Linked DNA regions of Homo sapiens: all the other regions are linked to region 7. A link means that fine-mapping ties the variant in region 7 to the plasma level of a protein whose gene starts in the linked region. Region 7 holds a variant in brackets. A gene starts in each other region. All regions are shown on their reverse strands.

The links. PIP is the posterior inclusion probability: the model's chance that the variant is causal. The UK Biobank Pharma Proteomics Project read protein levels with antibody pairs (Olink). The fine-mapping took linkage between variants from a reference panel, not from the people measured, so its PIPs are less certain.
Region 1: it holds the start of LYPD8, and the variant in region 7 is fine-mapped to the plasma level of the LYPD8 protein (UK Biobank, PIP above 0.99).
Region 2: it holds the start of CD300E, and the variant in region 7 is fine-mapped to the plasma level of the CD300E protein (UK Biobank, PIP above 0.99).
Region 3: it holds the start of TLR3, and the variant in region 7 is fine-mapped to the plasma level of the TLR3 protein (UK Biobank, PIP above 0.99).
Region 4: CLEC4A starts here. The variant in region 7 is fine-mapped to the plasma level of the CLEC4A protein (UK Biobank, PIP above 0.99).
Region 5: it holds the start of PSCA, and the variant in region 7 is fine-mapped to the plasma level of the PSCA protein (UK Biobank, PIP above 0.99).
Region 6: BST1 starts here. The variant in region 7 is fine-mapped to the plasma level of the BST1 protein (UK Biobank, PIP above 0.99).

What each region holds. Positions count from the first base shown.
Region 1 is chr1:248,755,123-248,759,297 of GRCh38, reverse strand. It overlaps LYPD8 (LY6/PLAUR domain containing 8), which reads left to right and starts at 3,539. Exons shown (of 7, transcript NM_001085474.2): 1 at 3,539-3,593; 2 at 3,912-4,059.
Region 2 is chr17:74,622,046-74,626,395 of GRCh38, reverse strand. It overlaps CD300E (CD300e molecule), which reads left to right and starts at 2,658. Exons shown (of 4, transcript NM_181449.3): 1 at 2,658-2,814. The coding sequence starts at 2,775. LOC101928343 (a long non-coding RNA gene) reads right to left here. Exons shown (of 4, transcript NR_158152.1): 4 at 400-869.
Region 3 is chr4:186,066,561-186,070,910 of GRCh38, reverse strand. It overlaps TLR3 (toll like receptor 3), which reads right to left and starts at 1,755. Exons shown (of 5, transcript NM_003265.3): 1 at 1,663-1,755.
Region 4 is chr12:8,121,453-8,125,802 of GRCh38, reverse strand. It overlaps CLEC4A (C-type lectin domain family 4 member A), which reads right to left and starts at 2,186. Exons shown (of 6, transcript NM_016184.4): 1 at 1,843-2,186; 2 at 126-242. The coding sequence starts at 1,924. RefSeq lists an enhancer at 2,267-2,316.
Region 5 is chr8:142,678,811-142,683,160 of GRCh38, reverse strand. PSCA (prostate stem cell antigen) reads right to left here and starts at 2,666. Exons shown (of 3, transcript NM_005672.5): 1 at 2,598-2,666; 2 at 1,727-1,834; 3 at 436-1,240. The coding sequence starts at 2,622. The coding sequence ends at 1,029. RefSeq lists an enhancer at 1,275-1,921.
Region 6 is chr4:15,701,015-15,705,364 of GRCh38, reverse strand. It overlaps BST1 (bone marrow stromal cell antigen 1), which reads right to left and starts at 2,300. Exons shown (of 9, transcript NM_004334.3): 1 at 2,033-2,300. The coding sequence starts at 2,220. RefSeq lists a silencer at 2,282-2,361.
Region 7 is chr19:43,646,323-43,650,672 of GRCh38, reverse strand. It overlaps PLAUR (plasminogen activator, urokinase receptor), which reads left to right. Exons shown (of 7, transcript NM_002659.4): 7 at 1,530-2,094. The coding sequence ends at 1,783. Among named protein-coding and RNA genes, the nearest start is that of CADM4, 8.6 kb to the right of the region's middle. The variant T/C (reference allele first, on the strand shown) is at 1,725.

The DNA of each region.
Region 1 (4,175 bases), not on the chromosome of region 7:
TTCCTCTGCAAGGTGACTGGGGGGCAGGAATGTTGGGGGCAATAATTCATTATTTTTAGCCTATTCTCACATCTCCAAGCGGGAGGAATGAGCTAGTCAATGAAAGGCTCCCAGAAGCAAACACAGAGAGAAGGCGGGTCAGGGGTGGATGCTCTTGATCCTTTTGCTGAGTCTTTGGCTTAGACTCCTGTTGGATATAATTCCTGCCCCAGCTTCCCTGACCTGACCCTACACACCTCCACATGCTTATTCCAAAATGGGGTAGGCTCCCCTGGAAACTCACCTCCAAGCTTTGCTGGTCATCAAGGGAAGCTTTGGGAAAAGGCCGTTTCCTAAAGTGGTTCCAGATTTACCACCGGATGACTCACTGGGACTCAGCTGAGCTCCAGGTTTGCCTCAGCTCAGCAGGCTGTAGGGACAGCCAACCTTGTCCCCTTCTAAGAAGATGATGGAACTAGGGTGCCTACGGTGTGCCCAGGGCTTCTTAGTTTAAAAGTTGGGCTGCTTGTTGCGACTTAGCTTCTCCTGGGTCTCTGGACTTCTTTGCTAGTCAGGAGGAGTCGGCTTTAGAGAGGTGCTTTTTCATAATTCCCTGTGACTGATTCAGGTCCTTGGACCCCACATTAATGACAGAGAGGTGAACCTCTGGGAGAGGGAGGAGTGGAGTCAAGTCGATGTCTCCAATCCTGCGGGTGGAGGCTGCGTCCCACCTGAGCCATGTTGAAATGGAAAGATTGCTGGCCCAGGCGTCTGAAGGCCTATAGGGAAGGCCTCCCTGGGCCTGTTTCCTTATCTGTCAAGGCAGCTGGGGGTACCCTTGGCGCACTGCCGGGGCTTCAAAAGGATGAACCCAGGACTGCTGTGAGCAGCCGTATAGACTGCGCAGCCTAGTTCAGGGGGCTTCCATTGTCTTCAGTGTCCTTACTGATAAATGGCTCAGTTAAAATCATACGTGCTATTAATAATAATTCCCACATGGTTAGACGTCCTCAGGACATTATTGATAGATAGATGGCCTTGGAAAAACACAGAGGAATGGGGTGATGATTCCAGGAGTAAATAAATCATCAGGAGGCATTTCTTCAGGGCCTGATGATTCCATTTTAAAGACAAAGAGCTCTGGCCCAACAAGTGCGGTTAATAAGTAACTTATGTGATGTGAGGGACAAAGTCTGGATTCAGACTCAGATCTTTGTGGTCGCTTTGGGTCCATTTGCCTGAGTATCTGGTGCCTTCTGAGAGGAATTAACATTGATCAGCCCGATTTTCTCATGCCAGTACTCAGCCTGACACCAGAGCTGTTATCTCAGAGGCAGTGTTCATGAGCTCTTTGGATCCTCCATCGGTGGCTCAGGGAGGCCACATTCCTGAAACCCGCAAGCCCACACACACCCCATTGGATATTACTGTGCCACTTCTCTTGTTGTGCCCTGCCAGGTGACTGACTAATGTGTGCTGGGAAACAATATGGTTCTGTTAGGGAGGAAGCTGCTTTTTTTTTTTTTTAGGAAAATGCTGTGATAAGCAGCCTGAAGGCAGATGGTGAGGAGAGGAGAGAATAAGAGATGGCCAGAGTCTCTGCTTATAAAAATAACTCAGATTTTGTCTTCTCCATGAGACCTACTACAACCTCCTCATTGAAAGTGGAAGCCTGCACCTGCTCACCCCCTAGCATGGTTGATGACTTATCCTACTCTTTGTCTTTTTGCCAGAGCAGTCACCACATTCTGACTTTCCCTGTGATTTGCTTATTTACCACTTTAATTTATGTTGTCTGTAGTCCTCTCTAGACTACACTCCAGGAGGGCAAAGGTCTTTGTCTTTTTGCTCACAAATACCTCCCGGTTTCCTACAGTAGGCCTAAGACAGGGAGGGTGCTCAAAAAATGTTTGTTGAATGAATGCATGAGTTTGGGGAAGGAAGAGAGAGCTGAGACACAGGTAGCGTAGCCATCCCCAAGGGGTATTTTCAAGAGCAGGGAACTGCAAGGTTTAAATGCAGGCTGGGGGATACTGGTATGATGTGTGCCCCTCAACCTCTGCATCCTCGGCTGAGTGGGCTCCTCCCACTCCCCACCGTGTGTGTATAAAGTGTCAGCACAGTGGAAAGATGAGGAGGGAAGATAACTCAAGTCCACACTCAAAACCAGGAGCACCCATGGCACAGTGTGAGGAGACTGGGAGAGTGTGAGGGTTAATATTGAGTGTCAACATGATTGGATTGAAAAGTATTGCAAAGTATTGTTCCTGGATGTGTCTGTGAGGGTGTTGCCAAAGGAGATTAACACTCGAGTCCGTGGACTGGCAGAGGCAGAGCCACCCTCAGTCTGGGTGGGCACCATCTGATCAGCTGCCAGCTCTGCTAGAATATAAAGCAGGCAGAAAAATGTCAAAAGGCTAGACTGGCCTAGCCTCCCAGCCTACATCTGGGTGGACATCATCTAATCAACTGCCAACACAGCTAGGATAAAAGCAGGCAGCAGAACGAGGAAGGACCAGACTGGCTGAGTCTCCCAGTCTCCATCTTTCTCCCATGCTGGATGCTTCCTTCCCTCAAACATCGGACTCCAAGTTCTTCGGCTTTGGGACTCTTGGGCCTACACCAGTGGTTTGCCAGGGGCTCTCAGGCCATCAGCCACAGACTGAAGGCTGCACTTTTGAGGTTTTGGGACTCAGACTGGCTTCCTTGGTCTTCAGGTCACAGACAGCCTATTGTGGGACTTCACCCTGTGATCATGTGAGTCAATACTCCTTAATGAACTCCCCTTCATACATATATAAACTCACCTTCTCTAGAGGACAGAGAACCTGACTAATACAGAGAGGCCTCAGTTGACCTGACCTGGGCTGTTACCAGTAGCTGCTCAGATCACTTGGCCAGAAAGACTCTCTCGATGGCTGCTGTGGGCTCTCACCCAGTGTGCAGAGCACACTGCAGGCAGGGGCTTCACGTCATGGTCCCTCTACCACACTATGAGGCTGCACAGTGAGTTTACACTCATCTTGGTTGGAGGACCCTCAAATCTAACAAGGTTAAGACACTTGCCTGTGGGAAACTGAGGCCCTTTCCTGAGTTGCACAGACCCCACATAGTCTGATTCGGAGCTCTGAGTTCTGACTGTGCCCCGGCTGTGTGCCCATGAGCATATCTCTTATGGCTCTCTTTCTGTGCTTTGGTTTTCTCATCTATAAATGGGCTAATCATGGTGACTGTTAGCAGGTTGTTAGGTGCTTGTCATTAGCAGGTCATGGAATTGACTTAGAAGGCCACAGACAATGCTGGAAGATACCTTACTCCTGTTTACATTTTGCCAAAGGCAGGCCTTGACCAAAGTTGTTCCCAATTCCTAGAGGTCTCAGAGAGGGCACGAGCTGCACAGATGCCAAAGGGTTGGGCAGCCTGTAGCTCTATTGGGCAGGGCACAGTCTGAGAGCCAGAAGCCTTAGCCTGTCTGACCCAGAGGTCCCACCCCAGAAGACAGCTGTGCTTTTTGATTTTACAGCCACCTGCTATATAAGGCCTCTCCCATACCAGCCCTAAGCCTCTACTGGGAACCACCTTCTGTAGGACAGTCACCAGGCCAGATCCAGAAGGTGAGAGGACTGCGAGGCCGGGGCCTGAGCCCTGGGAGAAGCTGAAACCGCAGGAAGGGCATTCAGGACCAGCTCAGGTCCTTCCCCGGCCAAGTCCAGGACATTCTTGCGGCTCTTGCTCCTTTGGCATTGCCCTAGGCAGTCGTATGCTCAGGAGAGGGAAGTCTGGAGTTCAGGGAGGATGTGGGCTGGGGATGTAGTTTTCTTGTTGTTTTGCCATCTGCTACTGTGTGTGTGGTTTGTGTGTAGTGTGTGCGTGTTCTGTGCATCATTCTGTGTGTGACATTCTTCATTCTGTGTGGTTTTGTGTCCTCACAGCCTCTCTAGGCTCCAGCTTTCTCTGTGGAAGATGACAGCAATTATAGCAGGACCCTGCCAGGCTGTCGAAAAGATTCCGCAATAAAACTTTGCCAGTGGGAAGTACCTAGTGAAACGGCCTAAGATGCCACTTCTTCTCATGTCCCAGGTGGGGGCCCTGCCTTGAGCCCCAGCTTCACTGGTCCCTCTTACCCACAGAGGTGTTGAGCACGGCCCTGGGTCCTGCTATGGGGTCACTCCCAGGCTCTGTTTCTCTGCTAGGTG
Region 2 (4,350 bases), not on the chromosome of region 7:
GCGTAATGACCATTCATGGATCCTAGCTTTTGGCAGGGGGCTCTGCTCCCACTCCCTGTCTTGTGTAGACCTGAGACATTGTCTTCTGTCCCTGAGTGGCTATTTAAACAGCAGCCCCTCTCCTCCTAAGGCCCAAATTCATTTTGACTGGTCCCCATTAGCCTCTTGGTATCAGATCCTGCTCACAGACCTGGCTTTTAGTTCCCTTTACATTTCTAATACCTGGAATTTCCTTTTATTGGATTTGACTTCAGTTTGGAACCAGATGATAGCTTCTGTGTCAACTCGGTCTTACTAGGTGGTCGGAGTTTGGATTTTCTAATTGGATTATAATGAAATGTGCCTATATTAGACATGGTGAGTTTATAGTTTTTCAACCATCAACACATGCCTTTGCTTATTCCCATTTCTTTTATTTTATAAACAACTGTAGGGATAAGATTTTCAAAAAAGGAACCAGAAGAAAACATTATAAAAGCAGAACCAAGAAGGCTGAAGATTTGTTTGGTCCTCTTGGTGGAAAGAACTGAAGCCTGCAACTGTTGTCTCTGCTGAATAAATGGCACAAGGGTTGCTATGGTTTGAATGTTCCCTCAGAAACTCGTGTTGAAACTTAACTGTCAATGTAATGGCATTGGGATGTGAGGTCTTTAAGAGGTGATTAGGCCATGAGAGCTCAGTCCTCCGAGTGGATTAATGCTGTTATCTCCGGAGTGGGTTAGTTATTGTGAGAGTGGTTTCCTGAGAGGCTGAGTTCAGTCCCCTTTTTCTCTCTGTCTAGGAGGCTTGCCTGCTGTCTTGTCTTCTGCCATGGAATGACGCTTGTCAGATGCCACTACGATGCTCTTGGACTTCTCATCTTCAGAAAGCTAGGAAGGTGAACAAATTTGTTCTTTTTTATTATTATTATTTGAGACAGAGTTTCTCTCTGTCGCCCAGGCTGAAATGCAGTGGCGTGATCTTGGCTCACTGCAACTTTCGTCTCCTGGGTTCAAGCAATTCTCCCACCTCAGCCTCCTGAGTAGCTGGGACTACAGGCTCATACCACCATGCAGGGCTAATTTCTGTATTTTTGTTAGAGACAGGGTTTTGCTATGTTGGCCAGGCTGGTCTGAAACTCCTGACCTCAAGTGATCTACGTGCCTCGGCCTCCCAAAGTGCTAGGATTACAGGCATGAGCCACTGCACCTGCCAACTTTTGTTCTTTATAAATTAGCTAGCCTGTAGTATTCTGTTATAGTAGAAGAAAATGGACTAAGACACAATGTTGTGGCTACTGTCAGCTCTGCTCATTCTGGATCCCTCAAGTGTGTGGCTCATGTCACACATGGGACCAGGGTCCTGGTGTTTTATTGTTCCATCCAGGGCTCTATTCTATATATAATCTATCTATCTTTCTTTCTTTCTTTTTCTTTCTTTCTTTCATCTTTCTTTCTTTTTTTTTTAGATGGAGTCTCTCTCTGTTGCCAGGCTGGAGTGCAATGGTGTGATCTTGGCTCATTGCTTTGCAACCTCCACCTCCTGGGTTCAAGTGATTCTCCTGCCTTGGCCTCCCAAGTAGCTGGGATTACAGGCACGTGCCACCATGCCTGGCTATATAATACTTCATCAGATATGGTGGTACAGAAAAGATAAGAAGTTGTGCTCTTACAACAAAAGTTTGAAATATCAGATGATCCAGTAGAGTTCTAAAAGATAGTAAAGATTAGAGGCTGTGGGTATCAAAGATGGGTATCTCTGGGGAAAGAGAAGGAAAGAAATTATATTTTCAGATAGCTATGTCTTAGAGAAGAGTATCTTCTGATGTGCAAGTTGGATTAGAGAGAATGTATAGCTAGTGGAGGGACCAGATGAGAAGCTATTTCAATGGTCCAGGACTATTCTAAAGGTATTTAATATTAACTGGGCAGTTACTATGTTCCAGGCACTGTATCAAGCACTTTACTTACATTAACTCATTTATTTCCTGTGGCAACCCTTTGAGAAAGAATTGTCATGAGTACTCTATTTTACAGATGAGGAGACTGAGGAGGAGAGTGATTTGGCAACATGCCCAAGGTCAGATGATTAATAAATGATGGAGATGAGATTTGAGTTTGTGTGACTTCAGAATCTATGCTGTTGACCATGACCCATATACTGAACTAGGTTAACAGTGTATAACCAGGTGGAGCTTCCCTATAGGAAGTTAGAAAGTAGGATCTGGAGCCCAGGAGAGATATTGGGATATTGGGTTAGAGGAAGAGGTGTGAAGTCATCCGCATGGAGATAACGGTTGAGAAAGACATGGGGAGTGATCACCACAGCTCCTTAAGTAGAGGGTGTTTTATGATTCAAAAGTAGGCAGCCATAGAGAAGGGAAGCTCCTTAGATCGATGAAGTAATCCCAGATAGGAAGAAGAGTGAAAGAGGCAGGGAACAGAGTTTTCTCTGTTGGAGAGGTTTCGTAAACTGGGACTGACTTTCATGAAATTCCGAGTCATGAAATCTCAGGGGGTGACTCAAACATTACGTTCACATTAAATGAAGGCCAACAGATTTTCCTGTTTGTGCTTGGTCCATTCTCAGAAACGTCTCTTGCCACCCTTTCTCTTCTGCTAAGTAAGGCTTAAAATTAGGAAGCATTCTTTAAAAGGCAAAAGAGGAAATAGATGAGTGAGAACACAAAGGAAACTTGGACAAGTAGAAAGTGGATGACCCAGGCTCCGTTACATATACTTGGATTCCAGCTGGGACCTAGATTTGCTGAGGACGGAAGCCAAGGAGACAGGAACATGTGGCTGCTCCCAGCTCTACTCCTTCTCTGCCTCTCAGGTGAGTGGGGCTGTGGCTTTGGGGACTTGGTTTTGCAGGGGGCAGGACAGTAGGTAGAAGAGCTGTCCTGGGTTCAAACCAGAGGTGAAGTGTCCACAGAAAAGGGAAAGATACATCCGTTCATTCACCTGTGCATCCTTCTATACATTCAATCATTCATCCACGGATCCTACAAACACTTACTGAGCACCAGATATGTGCCAGGACTGTTCTGGGTGCTGTAATTAAGAGTAACTTCTGAACTGAGGGAGTCAACTAACTACAATACAATGTGGAAATTACTGTTGTAGAGACTCATTCATGTGGTGATGAGAGTATGCAACAGGAACCCCTCACTTTGCTCTTGGAAGGGTGGGAGATGTCACTGAGGCTTCATTGGAAGTCCATCCTGCAGGATGAATGAGTTGGCTGAGTGGGAAAGGAATAGCTTATGTGCAAGTGTGAGGACATTAAAGACCATGGAGAGTTCAAGAATTAACAATAGTTCTGTTTTGACGAAGCTTAGTGTAAAGGGGTTGGAATGGTTTGTGAGAAATAATTAATGGGCTGGGCGTGGTGGCTCACGCCTGTAATCCCATCACTTTGGGAGGCCAAGGTGGGTGGATCACCTGAGGTCAGGAGTTTGAGACCAGCCTGGCCAACATGGTGAAACCCTGTCTCTACTAAAAATACAAAAATTAGCTGGGCGTGGTGATGCATGCCTGTAGTCCCAGCTACTAGGGAGGCTGAGGCAGGAGGATCGCTTGAACTTGGGAGGCGGAGGTTGCAGTGAGCCGAGATTGCACCACTGCAGCAGTCTGGCCTGGGTGATAGAGTTGAGATCCTGTCTGAAAAAAAAAAATGCCATCCTCAACATCTACCTTAAATCCTTCCCGGAACAAGGTGTGGTGTAAACAAGTAAATGAAACTGTCCTGCAAAGGTTGGACTTCAGAAGAGAAACTCTTATTAATAGACATTCAAAATACAAAACTGCAGGAAAACACATTTGTCTCTGGGGAAATAAATTTAGGCTAAAAATTAGAGGACATTCTTCATGTTTGCAGAATGAATTTTATGGTTGAGTTCCCTCACAAAACATAGAAATTGCCCAATGTAATGACAAGATTCTTTCTAGAAGGGTGAGTGAAAATGACAGCGATTTAAAGGAAGAAGACCAGGTAGGTGACATGGACCCAAACTCGTGGGCTCAAGCAATCCTCCTCTCTTGACCTCCCAAAGCACTGGGATTACAGGCATGAGCCACTGCACTCAACCAATGTTTGCTCATTTTGTATTTGAATTTGCTTCCTTTTTCTTTGCCCTTTCCATCTCTCTTTCCACCCCTATCTCATTCCCCATCCTCAGACTCGCAATGTGACCTGCGCAGGTCCCTCTGAAAATCTTAACTGGGAAAGAGAGATGGAAAGGGCAATTCTAGCAGGGAGGGGAAATGACAAAGAGGAAGGAAGCAAATTCAAATACAAAATAAGCAAACGTTGGTTGAGTGAGGTGGCTCACACCTGTAATCCCAGTGCTTTGGGAGGTCAAAGCAGGAG
Region 3 (4,350 bases), not on the chromosome of region 7:
AACATAGTGAGACCCCGTATCTACAAAAATATTTTAGAAAGTAGCCAAGTGTGGTGGCACAAGCCTGTAGTTCCAGCTACTTGGGAGGCTGAGGCAGGAGGATCGCTTGAGCCCAGGAGGTTAAGGCTGCAATGAATCATGATCACACCACTGCACTCCAGCCTGGGCAACAGAGCAAGACCTTACCTCTAAAAAACAAGAAAATTACCTTTGACCAGGCCAAGAAAATTACCTGTGGCTCATGCCTGTAATCCCATCACTTTAGGAAGCTGAGGCTGGAGGATCCCTTGAGCCTAGGAGTTTGGGACCAGCCTGGGCAACACAGGGAAACCTCATCTCCACCAAAATTTTTTTTTAAATTAGCTGGCCATAGTGGTTCACACCTGTGGTCCCAGCTACTCGTGACACTGAGGTGTGAGAATTGCTTGAGCCAGGGAGGTCAAGGCTGCAGTGAGCCACGATCATGCCACTGTACTTCAGCCTGGGCAACACAGCGAGACCTTGTCTCTAAATCGATAAATGAAATAAAATGAAATAAAATAAAATAAAATAAGATAGGGAAATTTCACATCCATCTGAATAACTAAATAAAAAGGTATAAGTATTTTGAGATATGCAAAAATTCAGTAAGTTTATAGCCATACGATCTGTATGAAAAGGTTATTCTAGGACATGCTTCAGTAAAACAAGCAAAAATGCAGTTAAAGGATGAAATGAGAGTGAAGAAAACGTTGCTGTTGAATGAGATCTAGCAGAAATAAAGAAAATGAAAAAAAATTAAAAAGAGACTCACTCAGCCTTAGAATTTTGGAAATATTTTGTGAGGGCACATGGAATTCACATTCTTTGTCCAAGTGAGAGACAATATTGCCTGATGGTTAGGACATGGGGTCTGGAGGCAGACTACCTGGAGTTAACCACTATCCATAGTTTGATTTGTAAACTTTGCAACCTTTGTAGTAGGTTCATACACAGGCACGCCCATATGAAGACACATACCAGCACGTAATCATCTGTAAACCTGGGAATCAACTTGCTGAAGCCAACTCCATTTTTACCCGAGTACCCCACAATTGCCGATACCAGTTTCTGATCTTCCCATACACCTTAACAACTTTCCACTTCTCCACTTCTTCCATTATCCTTCATTAGGTGAAAGAAAGCCATTTACTTACTCCTAGGCATACCTGAATGTTCTCTCCTATCTAAGACATTGTCATACAATGCCAGCTCCTGTCTCCCCTCCAGCCAATAAAACTAACAAAAGGGGATACGCTCTTTTAACCTCTTGGAGTTTTGTTTCTTTAAGGCAAAGATGTGATTTGCTAAAAAGACTGTTGCAAAATGATTTCCATAGCTTCCCTAATGTGTTTTTTCCAGGTACAGAATGCTACAGAGAAAAAAATTAAATACTGCATAAATACATTATCACATTAACTAGATATTGGTGCTATTACTTGTGTTCTGAGTTATACCCTTCTCCCATGCCCATATCATATCCCTTTTCTTCCACTTTCCTTCCTGAATAATTCTGACTAGATTTCAAGCACCAGATCAAAGAAAGACCAAAGAAGGCTAAAACCACATGCATTCTGCTAGCAAACTCTACTCAGCAAGAGAGACCCTGCCCAGTAAGAACGTGAAATGAACACCTTCACTTACTTGGATGACTGCTAGCCTTTCCTTTTTTCTTTAGTCCAAATCCAGACATTTCATCAGGGAAGTGTGTGGCAAATAGACGGCACTCTCGAAAGTGAAAGTAAAGCTTGAAAAAAAATGCTTTTATGTTTGGTGCATTCCAAGAAGGGCAAAGGGAGAAAACAAAAACAATCTCTGACAACCTCAGAGAGGCGTTTCAAACCGCCTCTGAAAAACACCTAGTTTTTATTTTATTTTAACTTTTTTTAAGCTGAGATCCTTGGATTTCATTGAAAGGGTCACAGATTTAGCAACAGCTAAAGTTGAAAGTGGGGACCTCACCATTTGATGTGGGCGGGTCTGGACCTCTGCAAGTTAAGGAATAACAGTGAATCCCTCAATTTTCTGCTAGACTCATGCGAAGCTGTCAGAATTGAGTAGTGTATGGTCACAGGGACAGAAAAAAAAATCCCTAATCAAAGCTGAAGTACTTTCCCTTCTTTCGTCTGGCTTTTATCTCTTTGCAACACTGTAAAATAACACCGGCAGAAATTAACCTCTTGATCCAGGAAGAAACTGAGTTTCACAGCAGAGAAAGAGCCAAACATGGCAAAGCTGAGAGCCAGTCCCACTCCTGCTGATCCACTTTTCCACGGTCAGACGCGTTAGGGAACAGATCAGTATGCCCAGAAAAGTTCAGATTAACTAAGAATTTCGTTCTTAATTTGCTTTAATGACTCCAACTAGTTAAGTAAATGTACTTGTTAAGAAATGAACTCACTTTTTTTCATTACAGATGTGCTATGATCTATTATAACTATATTGTTATATAGTGAAATATCACAATTGGAAGGAACTATAGACCACCTAATCTAACTCCCTTGTTTGAGAAATTAGGAAAACGAAACCTAGGGAGGTGAGTGGTTTGCCTAAGAACATGCCACAAGCCACCATATGCTTCAATCACACAAGTCATAAAACAACTGGACGGCTGGGACATGGCATTAGCTTGAACTCATTGCAGAGCTGATGGCAAGAAACAAGCGTGCATCATGGTGCAAAGTGCCCTCTTGTGGGCTCCAGCTTCAGCTAGACCGCTTTATAGTTACTGGGCTCAGGGCTACATGTCTCTGATTTTCATTTGTGACATCTGTAACATAACACCATAAGCAAACAGATGTCCTGAGTACGTGACTGTCCCTCACATCTATCCATTGGGATGTCCAGGAAAACTTCACTAATATTCAAAAGATTTCTTCTCTGTGAGCGCCTTGAAGGCAGGGTGAGGTTTATTCTTTGCATTATAGCTCCCCAGCAACCCTCTGAGGTAGACTGTTTCTTTGGCCTTCAATGAAAGAGACTCGTCCTCAGAATTCAAACCCTTGTGTGGCCTTCTCCCACGCTGACTCTAGGCTTGGCCATTTGACTAGCTTTGACCAGTGGGATATTAGCAAGCATGCAACAAGGTCTCATTGCCAAACACGATTACCCAGGCTTGAGAAGCAAGCAAATAAATGATTGTTGTTTTAAATTTAAAAAAATTGGAATGGTGTCATATGCATTATTAGCGAAATAAAACACATCATCTCAACAATCCTTCATACCTATCCCTTATGCCTTATGACTCCTTATACAGATTAAATTTCCCACGACTTTGGTTGACTAATGAATGGCTCTCGATAAATAAATTTTATTGATGGTCTCCTGATGCAGTAGTTTGGGCTTAATACCAGTTCATATTCAGATATTATTAGTCCTTAATTCTTGCTAGTTTCTAAATACAACACAGATTGTTTTCTCTCTACTGTACATTTCTTAACTATGTGCATTAACTTATTTAGCTATGATGGTGATTGGAGCAATAGTGAAAAACCTCATTTTTCCCCTTTTTAAAAGAATTAAGGCTGGGAGCAGTGGATCATGCCTGTAATCCCAACACTTTAGGAGATTGCTTGAGCCTAGGAGTTCAAGACCAACCTGGGCAACGTGGTAAAACTCCATCTCTACAAAAATTACAAAAATTAGCTGGGCATGTTGGTGCATGCCTATAGTCTCAGCTACTTGGGAGGCTGAGGTGGGAGGATCACTTGAGTCCAGGCAAATTCAAGTTTGCATTGAGTCATGAGTGCGCCACTGCACTCCAGCCTGGGTAACAGAGGGAGACCCTGTCTCAAAAAAAGAGAGAGAGAGAATTAAAAAAAAATGTATGCCCATAAATGTAAAATAACAAATTTAGTAAACACTGATATTTCACAGCATTACAGATCAGCCAATCTCAGAATAATGGGAAGCTGTATATTCCCAGCAAAACAGAGATCTACAGAATTCTAGAAGCCAAAGTCCCTTAAATTTATTCACATTCTAAAAACTCTAAGTTCCCTTCTTCCATTTGAGGGGCCTCTTTAATGAGAGTTTAGTAAGATAATATACACAAAATTTCTGGAAGAATCACTTGACAAAACACAGCAAGTTACAGAGACCGGAGTGACAAGCCAGATATAATTAGCAAATTACCACTCACATGCTGAACTACACAGACACTGTTCTTCTCTGCCCGTTCCTAATAACAATTCTTAATAAAACAGCCGTTTTTATTTTTTTTAATCTTTTTTTTCCTGAGACAGAGTCTTGCTCTGTCACCCAGGCTGTAATTCAGTGGCGCGATCTCAGCTCACTGCAAGCTCCGCCTACCGGGTTCAAGTAATTCTCCTG
Region 4 (4,350 bases), not on the chromosome of region 7:
TGTCTCCCCAGAGAAAATTTCATTTCAGATTTCTGGATAAGCTCATTTTCAAAAGTCAGTTTTTAAAGGATACCCTCTGTTCATGGACAGCAGATATTGCTTATTGGTTCAGTTGGCATACTTACTGACAAAAGCAATAAAGAATGAGATTGCCAATAGCAGGAAAAATATCAACAGTGAGGCACAAAGCAGCTTGGGGAATCCGGTATTACTTTTGTGAGGGGCAGTCCTCTCCTTGGAAGCTGAAGAAGAAGCCAAATTAGTTTTATCAGTAATAAGTTTGGTCTTTACTTCCTCTTCTTCCTCCTCCTCTTTCTCTCTCTTTTCTTGGATGACACACAGTTACTAACGGTATGACATTTGAAATCACATGAGAATAGGAATAGAAAGGATATAATAATATTCACTGTAGAAACTTTAAAAAATACATAAAAGTACGAATTCCTACAATTGAGGATAACTGTTATGCCATATAACTTATAATATACCATAATATTTTGGTATATATCTTTCTAGCAATTTTTTGAATGTATATATACACATATGCAAATTTTCCCACGATTGACATACCATAAATACTGATTTCTGACCTATTATTTTCCTTTACACTATATCATGAACATTTTTCATACCATTATATTTTCTTCTTTAACACTCCTTATTATGGTTGCATAGTATTTCATCATATATTTAAATAATGGTTTCCAACTTTAAATAATGCTATAGCAAATAAATCTTTATAATCATTCCTCATCACATGTTTAGAATAAAGTCAGTCTTTTTAGTTACCATCTCATGGTTAGGAATCACTTTCTTCGAGTTATGATATTTTGTCAAATGATGGGGGAAAAAAATTCAGTATTATATAATATGATTACATTTTTAGTAAAATACATATGCACATTATATGTATTTGTATGTGGAAGGATATTCACTAAATTGCAAATTATGATTTTCTCTAGATGATAAGAGTAATTATAATTCAAATATCTGTGTACCTCTGGTTAATTTTTTCTACAATGAACATTAATACTTGTGTAATAAAGAAATTATATAAAGTTTTTAAGGAGAAAAAATTTCCCTAAGTGCTCTCCACACCTTCACAGAGGTATTTTAGAAAGCGTAACTATAGTCCTGACCCCTTCCCCCATAGTTTCTTGTACTCTATATACATTCTTTTCTCTCTTTTGCTCTATACTTGAGATATCACACATGACACCCAAATCACCTTGCATCTACTCCCAAACGTAACAGAGTCTGTCTCAGAGATGCAACACGCAATAGGTTCTCTGATTTCAGAAAAAGTTTCCTGGAGATTTAAGAGACTTTCTTTGTAGACTTTCTAGTCTTTCATTTGCAAAGGCCTTTTGTTACATTTCCATCCATTACCAACAAATATACCCTCACCACTGTCCACCCAAACTCTTTCCCTCTAACTGATCAAAAAACAAATCTCACAAATTCATCAGGACCCCCTGCATCTGGATTGATGGTTTCAGAAGCTGTACTCAATCTCTTAACCCCAGCCCCACTCAGCCTCAGAAAACACAGGGGCATCAGAGCACTCGCCTTAGCTCAGAACTGGAGTGGATTTCTCTCACCTCTGTTTCAGTAAGCAGAGTGGAGGCTGAAGAGAGTGGCACAAAATCTTTTCTTCTCCACAATACAAATGTACACCCCGTAATGCGTATCTGCAGGCCACTCAATCTTCTGGGACTCTTGTGTTTCCCAGACATACTCAATCAGACAACCAGCAACTGAAAACACCTATGCCTTATTCATAAACCCTCTCCTCATCCTTCACCTCGTCATTCACTCTGACCCCTAGAAAATGATCTTTACCTGCAGAAGAGGCTGTGTTGATGCCTGAGGACTTGAATTCATTTTTGAACCTCACTTCAGCATAAGTGATTTCCGAAGTCATAATGGGAAGAGAGCTTCTGCTTTCTTCAGAAAATCTGTTTCAGATCTTTCTTAAAACATCTTATAAACAGGAACCAAACATGGTGGTAAATTACCTCCTTCCTTTCACTCAACTAGTGGAGAGCAGAGGCACCAGATAGGCACATATCCTCAAGAGGGGTCTCATGAGAACTAAGAACCACAATAAAAACTAAAAACCGCAGTTCACAGAAGCCCTTTCCTCAGGACCAGTATAGTGAGAATCACAGCCTTGAAACAAATGCAAGCAAATGCAATAAAAGTGGGAACTCAAAGGGTTGCGGAAAGAGGAAGAAAAATAAAAGAAGAACCAAGCACTTAGAGTCTTTCTGGAGAACTGCGTTTTTCACCAGTAAAAAATACAATTTCTGTGCTTCCACACACAAATGTAATTACTTTTGACCAAACATCCTGAACATAGACTTATGTTGCATTCATCTCATCAATTTTGACTGATCAGGCAACTTGTTAGTACCACATTCTAAGAGTATCATTGACACAAAACTCACATATCAGCCTCCCCACCTTCACGAATTAGTTTCCTGTAGCATGGTGGGGATGGCAAAGTTTAAACCCCATGTCTTCTGAAGCTGTTCCTCCATGCTCTCTGTGTTTCCTTGTTGGTAACTAACTCTATCAAAAGTCTGCATTCATCTTGCTAGAATCTCCAGAAAGCAGCTCCCTTTACTGGATGTTGGAGGAGAGGGAAGGCCAGCCTTTATTCCATGCTTCCCTAACCTTTTAATCGCCACATCACCTCCAATATATATGACTATTTTTTAACAGTTAGGAGAATTATATAGAATCACAGTATAGAAGGGGATAAACTTAAACAAAGTACTAAATATGACTTTTTCCAAAGGCCTAGAAGAAAACACTCCAAATATTAAATCCTTCATGTGGAATCTCTCCATAGACATGCTCCCAGCTCACACCTGGATTCTCTGCCCTCAACTCTCCGCAAATGATCCTCCTTTTAATCTCCCCCAGCTGATTCCTTCTCCTGCATAACACACATGCATACATGCATGCACACACACACAAACACACACGTCTATATTTCTATATTATTTCTATATCTAAATATATTGAACACCATGAGTTCACACTAATTCCTCTAATTCCAATCTAACACCACAAGTTTCATTCTAGTTTTCTCCCTTCCCACATTCCTAACTCCTTTCTGTGACACTAAGAAACCTGCTTTCATTGTCTTTCACTTATTCCTTATTTGATCAATCTCCTGGATGTCGTCAATCTCCCACCTGCTAAGATGTCCCTCTCTTCCTAGTTGGGCTCTGACTCCCCAGTCCAAGCCACCATCCCCTGCGCGGATGCCCTCCCTCCTCACTCTGAGAGTGCCGGCAAAGGGCCAGCCCACTCCCCACCCCCATGAACATCCCCCAACAAACATCCCCCTCACCCTGCCAAGGCTCTGACTCCCTGTGCTAGGCCATTCCTCTGCAGGAAAGCCCTCCTCACTCTGCTTGCACTCTGATTCCTGATGCTGGTCCCCTAGTCACCACTTAGACCCCCTTAGGTTCTAATGCTCCACACAAGGTCACCCTATGGGTGGAAGCCCTCCTCACCCTGGAGGGGTCTGATTTCCTCACCGGGCTATCCTACCACATGGACCACCTCCTTATCCTGCTAAGTTTCTGAAACCCACACCAAGTCCTCCCTCTGCATAGAAGCTTTCTTCATCCTGCTTGGGCTCTGACACTCCATGCAGGTCCTCCATCCCCCAGCAATAATGTCCATCTTACCCTACTTAGGATCTGAGTTCCCTCACTGGGCTACCCCACCACATGGACACCCTCCTTATCATGCTTGGTCTCTGAAACCACACCAGGTCTACCCTCTGCAAGGATGCTCTCTCTCCTCATCCTGCTTAAGTGCTGAGTCCCAACCCCAACTGGGCCAACACTAGGCATGGGTGCCCTCCTCACCTCTCCCACATGCTGACATACATACCAGGCTGGCCCTAGAGTACTCTGCTCAGCCATTTGCGACTCTGACTCCCTATAGAAGGTAACCTCATACATGGATGCCCTCCTCACCCTGCTTGCACTCCAACTCACTGCACCTGACTATCCCACCACATAGATGCCTTCTTTACCTCTCAGACTCTGACCTCTCACATCAGGCTACCCCTACTATGGACACCCTCCTCAATCTTATCCTCTGACACCCTGCACTGGGCCATTGCCAGGAGTGGACATCTCCTCGCTCTGGTTCCCCATGCCAGGACACTTTCCCACCCCTAAGGGATGTTCTTCTCACTCTGCTTGGGCTCCAGAACCACTGTCAAGCCAATACCCTGCATAGTCACCCTTCTCACCCTGCTAAAGCTCTCCCCCTGTGCCAGGCCACTGCTGCTCTCCCAGCCACCTCACCATAGACACCTAT
Region 5 (4,350 bases), not on the chromosome of region 7:
GGGGGAGGCCACCTGTCACCGGGGACCCTGCTGTAGTGTTTGAATGCTGTATGGTGGGTGTGCAGCTCTAAAACAAATTTTGAAAAATGGGGGTGCTCAAATCAGGCCAAGGGGATGGGTAGGAGCTTGAATGGTAGCAGTCCCTCCCCCCGGAACGCTCTCCTTCCTGTGAACTTTCTGGGTCCATCCTCCCAGCAAGGAGGGGTCATAGATGAGTCGCAAGGCTCAGAGAGGTCTGGCCACATGCTCCAGGCAGCACAGCAAGTGCAAGTCCTGGGAACTGCCCTCCCACCCTCTGCAGGGACGTCCTCCTTTCAGGGGCCAAGCTTTGCTCCTGTTAGGGCGGAGGCTGCAGCCCATGTGACCAGGGCCCTGGTCCAGACACAGCCCTGGATCCGGTGCCCGCCTGGGGTGTGCAAGGACAGAGGGTCTCTCTGGCTTATCCAACAGGTGTTTATTAAGGGCCTACGCTGTGCTGAGGCTGCCATTCAGGGAGCCCCACGAATGTGAGGCCTGGCCCCTTCCTCCAGGCCTCCAGGCCCCATCTCTGGAGACTCCCAGGAACTCACGTCGACTCCTGTCCTCCAGTTCTACTCAGTCCACTTCATCTCAGCCTTTACCGGGCCCTCCTGAGTGCCTGTCCCCTGCTGGGTGCGGGGGACACCACGGACCAGACCTGGCTCAAGTCATAGATGGGGTGGGCAGGGAAGGCTTCCTGGGGGAAGAGGTGCCTGAGCACAGGGTTAAGGGTGGAGAATGCTGGGCCATGGAAACAGCAGCAGAGAGGGTTGGAGGGGCCATCTGCAGGCGGATCTGTGTCAATAGAGCCGATCTGCCGGGTGGGAGTCCTGGAGAGGGCCATGGGAGGGTCAGGGTGGGGGACAGGGGCGCAGACATACATGGTCAGACTTGCGTTAGGATGTGCCTCAGGAACCAGGACAGGCTCCCACTGGGCCGGGTGTGTGAGGAGTGGCACAGAGGCCTGGGGCACCACACCCAGTGTGGGCTGCAGCGGGGCCCCCCAGAGCCTAGAGCTGGCCGGGTCCCCAGAGCAGCAGGCCGAGTGCAGGGAGCAGCGCAAGGATGGCAGCAGCCGGCTGCAGGGCATGGGCCCCGCTGGCGTTGCACAAGTCGGTGTCACAGCACGTGATGTTCTTCTTGCCCACGTAGTAGTCCTGTGAGTCATCCACGCAGTTCAAGCTGCAGCCTTTGCTGATGACGGTCAGGAGGCCAACTGCGCCTGGGGAGCAGCGGGATCCGGGGATGGGGCTGCCCTGTGTGCTCACCTGCCTGACCTGCCCCAGGCCTCCTCCTGTCCCACCCTGCCTAATGCTCTAGAGTCCCCCTGGGCTGGCCTCAGGATTGCAAGCAGTGCGAGGGCCTGGTCTCGGCCCTGGTCTCAGCCCTATCCAGATGTCCGAGGCAGATGGACCACCCGCTGAGCGTCAGAAATGGGGTGAGTGAGTAAGTGAGCTCAGGGATGGGGAGGGACAGATGGGTGGAGGAGTGGAAGATGGAGGATGGGGAGGGACAGATGAGTGGAGGAGTGGCAGATGGAGGAGGATGGCTGGAGGGACAGATGCTGGGTGATTGTTGGGGGTGCAGGTGCGGGACGGGTCGGGGACAGGTGGAAGGAAAACAGCACACAGATGCGGACAGATGGCCAGAAAGATTAATAGTTCAGTGGCAGAGACCTAGGCCTGGCGGCTGTCGTCCCCCCACTCACGGATGCGCGCGGTCCAGCACTGCTCCCCCAGCTGGGTGCAGTTCTCCACCTGCAGGCAGTCCTCGTTGCTCACCTGGGCTTTGCAGGAGTAGCACAGCAGGGCAGTGCCTGTGGGGTGGAGTGGGAGGGGCCTCAGAGGCTGCCCCATAGCACTCCCCAGGAATGGGGGCTCCCAGGCAGGTGGGCCTCCATGGCGGTGGCCTGAGGAAGTCCTCGGCGCCCTCTTGTCACCCTCAATGTCTCCTCCCCATCTTCACGGCCCCCTGCTCAGTGCCTCCGAAATGTTGCCCTGTTTAGTCCCTCGGTGGCTGCTTTTGTGACCGTGTGTTTCAGAAGAGGAAGCTGCGGCTGTGGGGGTGACTGAACCCGGGACCCTGGGTCGGGAGGGTCCCACCTCAAGCAGAGCAGCTCCCTGGGACCCTTGGAAGCTGCAGTGCTGGGACTGGGCCGGATGTAGACCCCCGGGTCCTCGCAGGACACCCCCAGCACCTCCCCCTTGTGCCCCAAAAACCACTTCTTAGCCTGAGGCTTCCTGTCCCATGTCTCCCAGCTCCTCATCAGCATCTCTGCCCATCCATCCGTCAGTCTGTCTACCTGCCCCCTAGGAGCCAGGCCCTGCCCCACGGTGGTGAAGGAGAGTGACTCCGTGCTGCCCCTGCAAGCCCCGGTCACAGGGGACGGCAGGGAACAGGTCGCTGCCTGGTCGTGCCAAGAGCTTCCCTGGAGGAGCGGAGGCTAGGGCAAGAGCCTCACCCCCTTCCTCTCCCTTCCTCCTTCCTTCCCCTCCTCTCCGTGTGCCCTGCAGGTATCCCTCTGGCCTCCCCGGCTCACCCCTGCTCCCTTCCCTGCTGGGGGCCAGCCAAGGCCTCACCTGGCTGCAGGGCCAAGCCTGCCATCAACAGGGCAAGCAGCACAGCCTTCGTGGTCACTGGTGGGCTGTGGTGGAGAGGGCCTCAGGTGACTTTATATGGCCTCAAATGGGGAGAGGCTGGACTGCCCACAGTCAACACCAGCGGGTTTCCTGGAGCCAGTGAGGGCCCCGGGGCTGGGCAGGTCCGAGTCTCCTCCCTGAGCGACCTGCACCTCCCTCTCCCTTTGTCCTTCTTTCCACCTCTGGAGGACAGAGCCTACCCAGGGCCATATCTCAGCCACCCCGGGCTGAGGGCTGAAACGTCCTCAAGACCCAGATTATGCCTCTCCCACCTCCCCCACCTCACAGTGCAAGGCCAGACAAGGGAGACCCTTTCTCCAGACTCCTCCAGGCCTCGGCCTTCCAGCCAAGGATGAGGGCACCTCCCTGGGCCCTGTGCTCCTATAGAAGCTGTGCCGCCCTCTGGGGCCCACGGCCCGCAGGGTGATGAGCCTTGGTCACAGCGTCACTGACAGATCATTAGCAGGTGCTGCAAAGGACAGGGGCAGGGGCTGTTCCGGTATAAACCAAAAGTAACATTCTAAGGCCCCCCAGCCATCTGAGTGGAACCCTCCTCTTGGCAAGGGCTTTCCGAAGTTAACCTGAAAAACTGGTTCAGGCCATGACAGCAAAGGGTTGGATAGCCTCATTATCCCTCCTCCCTTCAGAACTCTGGAACAGCCAGCGTTAACATCAACACAGGCCTTCAGTCTGATGAGAAACATTTACCATCTATTGTCTCGGAAGCCTGCTACCTGGAGGCTTCATCTGATGATAAAGCCTTGGTCTCCACAACCCCGTATAACCCAGACATTCCTTTCTATTGATAACTCTTGCAAGCGATTGCCAACCAGAAGATGTTTAAATCCACCTATAACCTGGAAGCCCCCAGTTCCAGCTGCCCACCTTTCTGGACTAAACCAATGTATATCTTCAATATATTTGATTGATGTCTCATGTCTCCCTAAAATGGGTACCATCAAGCTGTGCACTGACCACCTTGGGCACATGTTCTCAGGGTCTCCTGGGGGCTGTGTCACAGGCCATGGTCCCTCATATTTGGCTCAGAATAAATGTCTTCAAATATTTTACAGAGTTTGGCTCTTGTTGACACAGGGGACAGCCTCCCTGGGGAGGAGACCCTGTTGGACGGGCCTTCATTTATGGGGCATTCAGTGTGGGCTGAGCCCTGGGCTAGGTGCTTTACCCTCAGGACCTTGAGTGACCCCCTCAGCTTGGAACTTTAGCTGCAAACGAGTCGGGGAAGTGCAGCTTTTAGCAGCCTCTGCAGTAGCAGGAGGCAGCGGCTAGGCCCAGGGCTGTATGGCCTCTGTTTGCCCCAGATCCCCTCTCCGTCCTGCTCCATGTCCTGGGAGGCTGGTCCAGCTCCCACAGGCAGGAGATGAGAGAGTGGAAGAGGCAAGTTCAGGCCAGCTCTCCTGCCAGTCAGCTGGGAGGTGGTGGCAGTGGCTATGGCCCTCTAGAGCAGGCCCAGCCCGCTGGGCGGTGGTGGCAGTGGCTATGGCCCTCTAGAGCAGGCCCAAGCTCTCATGCCAGTCAGCTGGGCGGTGGGTGGTGGCAGCGGCTATGGCCCTCTAGAGCAGGCCCAGGCTCTCATGCCAGCTGGCTAAGTGTTGGTGGCAGTAGCTATGGTCCTCTAGTACAGGCCTAGGCTCTCCTGCCAGCCGGCTGAGTGTTGGTGGCAGTAGCTATG
Region 6 (4,350 bases), not on the chromosome of region 7:
TAGGTGACAGATTCAGAAATCTGACACTGGAATTGTCTCTCTGAAGGCACTGCACAGATTTCTCAGAGCTAAGGAATACAGCCTTGCCCCAGGCTCACGGAGACAAGCAGAAATGGCACCGAGCAGGAGGTGACAAATTCAGTCAACTATACAGCAGGTGCCTCTTCATTTAGACCTAACGGTGGGGCCAGTCTCATAGTCCAGTTCCAGTGTGGAGCTCGGGGACCAGGTGAGGCCAGGCCAGCCAGCAGGATGTGTAGTGTTAGGAGGGAGGCCCAATGCTGCAAAAGGCTTCCACCTCTGGCAAAGCAGGTGCACCCTCCAGTGCAAGCCCCTCTTGAGGTCCATGCTAGTTTTCAAAAAATATTTCCCATAGCATTTGTAACTTTGTTTCTCATACTGGGTGGTGTGTAACACAGGTGGTTCTCTGCTGTTTCTTATTTGCCTGAAATGTGCGACAATAAAAATGATCAGCACAAGAAAGACATCACAAACATAAGAAAAGGGGGGCCACAGAAGGAACAAAAATCAGTAAGAAATGCAGCACTGGCAAGAAAGACCCAAACTTCAGAAATCCTCCAGATTTAGGGGATCTGAAATTTGAATTCTGGAAGGACTGGACTCAAGGAATTCCAACCTGAGATCACATTCTGGGTTCTGAGTATTCAGACTAAACATCTGCTGGGTGGCAATGGGCTGTTACCCAGTTCACCTCTACCCCACCCTCACTTCTAGAGGGATACCTCTCCACCCTCCTTCACACTCACACACACCTCTCACCTCTAGACCACACACACATCCCTCACCTCTAGACCACACACACATCCCTCACCTATAGACCACACACACACACCTGTCACCTCTAGACTACACACACACACCCCTCACCTCTAGAACAAACACACACACATCTCACCTCTAGAACACACACACAACTCACCTCTAGAACACACACACACACACATCCCTTACCTCTAGAACACACACACCTCTCACTTCTAGAACACACACACCCATCATCTCTAGAACACACACATCTCACCTCTAGAACACACACCCCTCAACTCCAGAACACACACACACCCCTCACCTCTAGAACACACATACACACCTCATCTCTAGAACACACACTCTCCTCAGCTCTAGAATACACATACACCCCCTCACCTCTAGAACACACACACCCCTCACCTCTAGACCACACACACATCCCTCACCTCTAGACCACACACACATCCCTCACCTATAGACCACACACACACACCTGTCACCTCTAGACTACACACACACACCCCTCACCTCTAGAACACAGATACACACACACCTCTAGAACACATGCACGCACCCCTCACCTCTAGAACACACACACACACATCTCACCTCCAGAACACACACACCCCTCACTTCTAGAACACACACACCCCTCACCTCTAGAATACACACACCCCTCACCTCTAGAGCGCACGCACACACACCCCCTTCACCTCTAGAACACACATGCACACACCCCTCACCTCTAGAACACACATACAGACACCTCACCTCTGGAACACACACACCCCTTACCTCTAGAACACACACACACATCTCACCTTTAGAACACACACACACACCCCTCACCTCTAGAGCACACACACACACACACACCCCCACCTCTAGAGCACACACACACACATCCACCTCTAGAGCACACACACACCTCCCACCTCTAGAGCGCGCGCACACACACACCCCCCTCACCTCTAGAACACACGCACACACCCCTCACCTCTACAGTGTGTGTGTGCGCGCACACACACACACTCATCTCTAGACCCCGCACAGCGCACCCCTCACCTGCAGACACACTTCACAGCCCCCTCCTCACTCGCCCCCATCGTTCAGGACCATCGCTGTCTCCACACTCACCTCTCCCCTCAAGGCCTCTCTCATTGCCCCCTCACCCCGAACTTTAGCGCCAGTTTTCCCCTCCCCAGGCCCTCCCCACCGTTGCCTCTTTCCGGCTCCCCTTCCACCCGGCCGACTGCCTCACCGCTGCTCGGGACTCAGCAGTGCGCGGTACTCGGCGCAGCGGCCCAGGAAGATGTCCCGCAAGTGTGCGCTGGTGCCCTCCCCGCGCCACCGCGCGCGCGCCCCGCCCGCCGCCAGCAGCAACAGTAGAAGCAGAAGCTGCAGCAGCAGCTGGAGCAGCCGCGATGCCGCGCACCCCTGGGCCGCCATCGGGGAACTTTGGTCCCTCCAGTCCCGTGCTTCCTCCACTCCCCTTCTCTCCTTCTACCAAGGCGGTTCCGCAAACTGATGCAGGGCGGGACTCTCGCTCGGATATCTCGCTGTTTGCCGTTTCCCGTTCCAGACAATTTCAAGACTGAGCGTGGGGCGGGGCGCGGCGGCTCATGCCTGTAATCCCAGCACTTTGAGAGGCCTAGACGGGCGGATCGCTTGAGTATAGGAGTTCGAGACAAACCTGAGTAACATACAGGTGAGAAACCTCCTCTCTACAAAAAAATACAAAACTTAGCTGGTCCTGGTGGTGCGCATCTGTAGTCTCAGCTACCTGCGAGGTGAGATGTGAGGAGGCTTGACCCCAGGGGATCGAGGCTGCAGCGAGCAGTGATTGCACCACTGCACTCCAGCCCTGGGCGACAGAGTGAGACTCTGTCTAAAAAAAAAATTAATAAATAAATAAAATTAAAAAAGAGTGAGCTTGGAACATCACCCAGGACAGGACCAGTGCACTGTGGCCCAGGCTAATCTTGACCGCTGTCCACGGGGAGGGAGCCCCAAAGAAGCCGCAAGGTTGAAGGAGAGGTGAGGAGAGGTCAGTCATCATCAGAAGAAATACTTTTCTGGCTCCAAAGGACGACAACTTTGACAGATGCCCTCTTTCACACCAACCAATAAGTGGTGTTTGTTTGTTTTCAGGAAATAATAACCACAACAACGTGCCAAGCACTTTGCAAGTATAATATTAATTACTTTCCGCAACACCCTTCCTAGCTAAGTTTGTAATTTCTCTCGCTTTAGCAATGGATAAACTCAGGGAAGTTAAGCATGTTCGGCCCTCCAGATTTGCGGATTCATCATCCAAATTCAGCTAACCACGGATGAGAAACATTTGAGGAAAAAAAGAATGCTTGCATCTGTACGGAACATGTACGGACTTTTTTTTCCTTGTCATCATTCCCTAAATAATCCAATGTAACAACTACTTATGTAACAATTACATAGTACTTGATATTACAAGGAATCTGGAGATGACGTGAATTATAGAAGAGGATGTGCAAATACTGTATACTACACCATTTAATATAAGGGCCTTGAGCATCTGTGGATTTTGGTATCCAGGAGGTTCCTGGAACCAATTCTCCATGGATACCTACCGCCGACTGTAACTTGTCAGAGGTCACAATATCCCTTCCTGATAGATGCAAAATCCTGGAGATGTTCAGTTTAAGAGAGCCAGGATTGGCCGGGCGCGGTGGCTCACACCTGTAATCCCAGCACTTTGGGAGGCCGAGGCGGGTGGATCACGAGGTCAAGAGATCGAGACCATCCTTGCTAACACGGTGAAACCCCGTCTCTACTAAAAATACAAAAGATTAGCCAGGCGCGGTGGCGGGCGCCTGTTGTCCCAGCTACTCGGGAGGCTGAGGCGGGAAAACGGCGTGAACCCAGGAGGCAGAGCTCGCAGTGAGCCGAGATCGGGCCACTGCACTCCAGTCTGGGCAACAGAGTGAGACTCCGTCTCAAAAAAAAAAAAAAAAAGAGCCAGTATTAATAGAATACCACGTGGAGGCCCAAGTCCTCAATTCTTACAATAATGACAGCAATGAACTTTGAGTGCCTGGCAAGCACTTGATAAACACAAGGGAGGACAGAACAGGTGTTCTCTACTGTTTTATTTGAATCTCTTTTTTTCTGTAACCAAAACCCGCATTCTCCTGTTCAGTTCCTCCTTAAGTTAAATCCACTTTCCAGAGGAAAGCATTTTTAATTCTTTCAAGTTTTGTTCCTGTGTTTACTTCCATATTTCTAAATAACATGTGTGAACCCGCAAATTTTGAGACAGGTCTCAATTAATTTAGAAAGTTTATTTTAGCAAGGTTGAGGACACGTGTCCATGACACAACCTCAGGAAGTCCTGACGACATGTACCCAAGGTGGTCAGGGCACAGCTTGGTTTTATACATTTTAGGGAGACATGAGATATCAATCAATATATGTAAGAAGTACATTGGTTCTGTCCAGAGAGGCGGGGACAACTCGAAGCACGGAGGGGGCTTCCAGGTCTCAGGTAGGTGAGAGACAAATGGTTGCCTTCTTTTGAGTTTCTGATAAGCCTTTCCAAAG
Region 7 (4,350 bases):
ATTTTAATGAAAAATAAGTATAGTTTCCAAAGAAAAAATGTAATGATAGCCAGGCATGGTGGCTCATGCCTATAATCCCAATACTTTGGGAGGCCAAGGTGGGCGGGTCACTTAAGCCTAGGGATTTGAGACCAGCCTGGGCAACATAGCAAGATCCTGTCTCTACAGAAAATACAAAAGTTAGCTGGGCATGGTGGTGCATGCCTGTAGTCCCAGCTGCTTGGGAGGCTGAGGTGGGAGGGTCACTTGAGCCTGGGAGGTGGAGGTTGCAGTGAACGGAGATTGCACCACTGCACTGCGGCCTGGGCAACAGAGCGAGACCCTGTCTTAAAAAAACAAACAAAGAAACAACAAAAAAAAAACCAGCCAGGCGCGGTGGCTCACGCCTGTAATACCAGCACTTTGGGAGGCCAAGGCGGGCAGATCACAAGGTCAGGAGTTCGAGACCAGCCTGGCCAATATGGTGAAACCCCGTCTCTACTAGAAATACAAAAATTAGCTGGGCATGGTGGTCGCGCCTGTAGTCCCAGCTACTTGGGAGGCTGAGGCAGAAGAATTGCTTGAACCCGGGAGGCAGAGGTTGCAGTGAGCCGAGATCGTGCCACTGCACTCCAGCCTGGGTGACAGAGTGAGACTCCATCTCAAAAAAAAAAACAAAAAAAAAGCGTAATGAGAAAACTGGCATTATTTTGCTGTGTTGCACATCTCTTTAATGTCCAGCTTAATAGAAGACAGCTGGGTCCTCATGGAAGCTTCTGCTTTCAGTCTCTTGCAATATCACATGTCCTGGAGTTTTTGGAAAAGCCCATTGTACACTTATGAGAGTGAAAAAGCCATGTGAAATCACAGATCTCCTGAAAGGGTCTCTGGGGTCCCTGAGCCACACTTTAAGAACCGCTGCTCGCTTCCTTTCTTTCTTTTTTTTTCTTTCCTTTTCTTTCTCTGTCTCTCTTTCCCTTTCTTTCTTTCTTTCTTCCTTCCTTCCTCCCTTCCTTCCTTCTTTCCCTTCTCCTTCCTTCCTTCCTCCCTCTCTCTCTCTTTCTTTCTTTTCTTTCCCTTCTTCCCTTCCTCCCTTCCTTCTTCCCTCCCTCCCTCCCTCCCTTCCTTCCTTTCTTTCTTTTTATTTGTTTTTTGAAACAGGGTCTCACTCTGTTACCCAGGCTGGAGTGCAGTGGCGTGATCATAACTCACCACAGCCTCCATCTCCTGAGCTCAAGTGATCCTCTCATCTCAGCCTCCCAAGTAGCTGGGACTACAGCTGTTTTTTTCTTTTTTATGTTTGTAGAAACAGAGTTTTGCTATGTTGTCCAGGCTGGTCTGGAACTCCTGGGCTCAAGCTATCCTCTCTCCTTGGCTTCCCAAGGTGTTGAGATTACAGGCATGAGCCACCACACCTGGCCCTGAGAACTGCTGCTTTCTCTAGGTGGTAGTGAAGGTGGCACCCACTGCAAGGTGGCAGGTCACCTACTGGAGAATTCCAGTCCTGGGCCCAGGAGCTGGAAGTCTCACTCCGTCTTCTCTTTCCTCAGAACCGAAAAACCAAAGCTATATGGTAAGAGGCTGTGCAACCGCCTCAATGTGCCAACATGCCCACCTGGGTGACGCCTTCAGCATGAACCACATTGATGTCTCCTGCTGTACTAAAAGTGGCTGTAACCACCCAGACCTGGATGTCCAGTACCGCAGTGGGGCTGCTCCTCAGCCTGGCCCTGCCCATCTCAGCC[T/C]CACCATCACCCTGCTAATGACTGCCAGACTGTGGGGAGGCACTCTCCTCTGGACCTAAACCTGAAATCCCCCTCTCTGCCCTGGCTGGATCCGGGGGACCCCTTTGCCCTTCCCTCGGCTCCCAGCCCTACAGACTTGCTGTGTGACCTCAGGCCAGTGTGCCGACCTCTCTGGGCCTCAGTTTTCCCAGCTATGAAAACAGCTATCTCACAAAGTTGTGTGAAGCAGAAGAGAAAAGCTGGAGGAAGGCCGTGGGCCAATGGGAGAGCTCTTGTTATTATTAATATTGTTGCCGCTGTTGTGTTGTTGTTATTAATTAATATTCATATTATTTATTTTATACTTACATAAAGATTTTGTACCAGTGGACAAGGCCAGGTATGCCCTTCTTTGTAGTGTCTATCTTTGGGAGGATAAATGGTGGGGGACACCTTTTCACAGGCTCCTGGAATCAGGGGTCATGTTTGAGGCCCCTGCCTAGGTTGGAAGTCCTCCTGGGGGCTGCCTCCACATCTATTTCTGGACTCCAAATGCTGACAGAGCAGGAGCACTGCCATCTTGAACAAACACCACCATTCTTAGTTCCTCTTGATTAAAAATCGGCTAAATCCGGACGTGGTGGCGGGTGCCTGTAGTCCCAGCTATTCGGGAGGCTGAGGCAGGAGAATGGCGTCAATCCGGGAGGTGGAGCTTGCAGTGAGCCGAGATTGCACCACTGCACTCCAGCCTGGGTGACAGAGCAAGACTCTGTCTCAAAAAAAAATCAGCTAAATCCAGCCCCAAAACATCAGCCTAATGGCTACCATCAGCATAACCAGAAACATTCCAACCCTAAGATAAACCCCTCTCTGACCAGAAACATGCCAACCCCCAGATAGCCTCCCTTCCGACCAGAGACTTTCCAACCCCACAATAAACTTTTCCTCACATGAAAACATTCCGAACCTAGATAAGCACCCCCTTCCAAAACTCTTAAATATCCTTAGTCTGTAAAAAAAAAAAAAAAAAAGGGCTCTCTAACCTAACTCAGCCAAAAGCCCCCCTCAGGTTGGTTTTCTCTAAAATAAACCTGTCCTTCACCGTCAAGCCACATTTCATGTTTCTTTCCTTTTCCTTTTTCTTTTCTTTTCTTTTCTTTTTTTGAGATGGAGTTTCACTCTTGTTGCCCAGGCTGGAGTGCAATGACACAATCTCAGCTCACCACAACCTCCACCTCCTAGTTCAAGGGATTCTCCTGCCTCAGCCTCCCAAGTAGCTGGGATTACAGGCATGCACCACCACACCCGGCTAATTTTGTATTTTTAGTAGAGACAGGGTTTCTCCATGTTGTTCAGGCTGGTCTCAAACTCCCAACCTCAGGTGATCTGCCCACCTTGGCCTCCCAAAGTGCTAGGATTACAGGCATGAGCCACCGTGCCTGGCCTCCTCTTTCTTTAATTCTTACAAATGCAAGCTTCCAGATCACACACTGAACACTAACCTTCTAGTCTTCTCCTAAACTTCAAAGGTTGCAACTATTTTGTTGTTCTAAGGAGACATCCCCACATTTCCCAGCATGCTTTGGGAAAGGAGACGGATAGAAGATAACCTGATGGCCAGAACTCCCTGCATGCACTGCAGTGAGGAATAAGGACAGGAGTGCACTTCCCCTGATGTGCTGGGGACCGGGGATAAAGGCTGGGCTCTATTTCCCGGGATGCCTCAGGACTGTCAGAAAAAGAGACAGAACTACCATTTCAATGGCACTCTAGGAGCACAATATTGAAAAATTCATGTTCTTCTCATCATTTGCTAAGGCAACCCATGGAGACAAAAATTACATTCCCCATCAAATCTTGTGGCTAATGAAGAAAAAATAAGATATCTTCGGCTGGCTGTGGTGGTTCACGCCTGTAATCCCAGCACTTTGGGAGGCCGAGGTGGGCAGATCACTTGAGGCAGGAGTTTGAGACCAGCCTGGCCAATTTGGCAAAACCCCGTCTCTACTAAAATTACAAAAATTAACCGGGTAAGGTGGTGGGTGCCTGTAACTCCAGCTACTCGGAAGGCTGAGGCAGGAGAATCGCTTGAACCCAGGAGGAGGAGGTTGTAGTGAGCCAAGATCACACCACTGCATGACACAGTGAGACTATCCCCAAAAAAAAAAAAAAAAAAAAAAAGACATCTTCCATGGTATTTGGGGGCAGGTGAGGGACAAGGTTCTTGTTTAGGGCTTTCTCTAATGACATATCACCACCTGTCACTGTAGTGGCTTAAAGAAGTGAGGTCTGTACTTCTGCCTCTTGAATATGAGTGACTCTGTGACTGCTTTGACCAGTAGAATGTGGTGGAAGTTTTGCTGTGCTATGTTCTGGAACCAAGTTTTAAGAAACTTTCATTTTTCACTTTCTGAATCTTAGAACGCTCACTCTGGGGAAGCTGGTTGCCATGTAAAAGTACTACTGCCCTGAGACCACCATGCTGTGAGGAAGCCCAAGCTACTCATGTATAAATGCCATGTGGAGATAGAGCCCCAGATGTTTCAGCCATCTCAGCCCAGGCACCAGACAAGTGGGTGAAGAAGCCACCTTGGACATGTAGCCCCAGCAGATGTGATATAGAGAAGAAACAGGAAACTTGGCTATA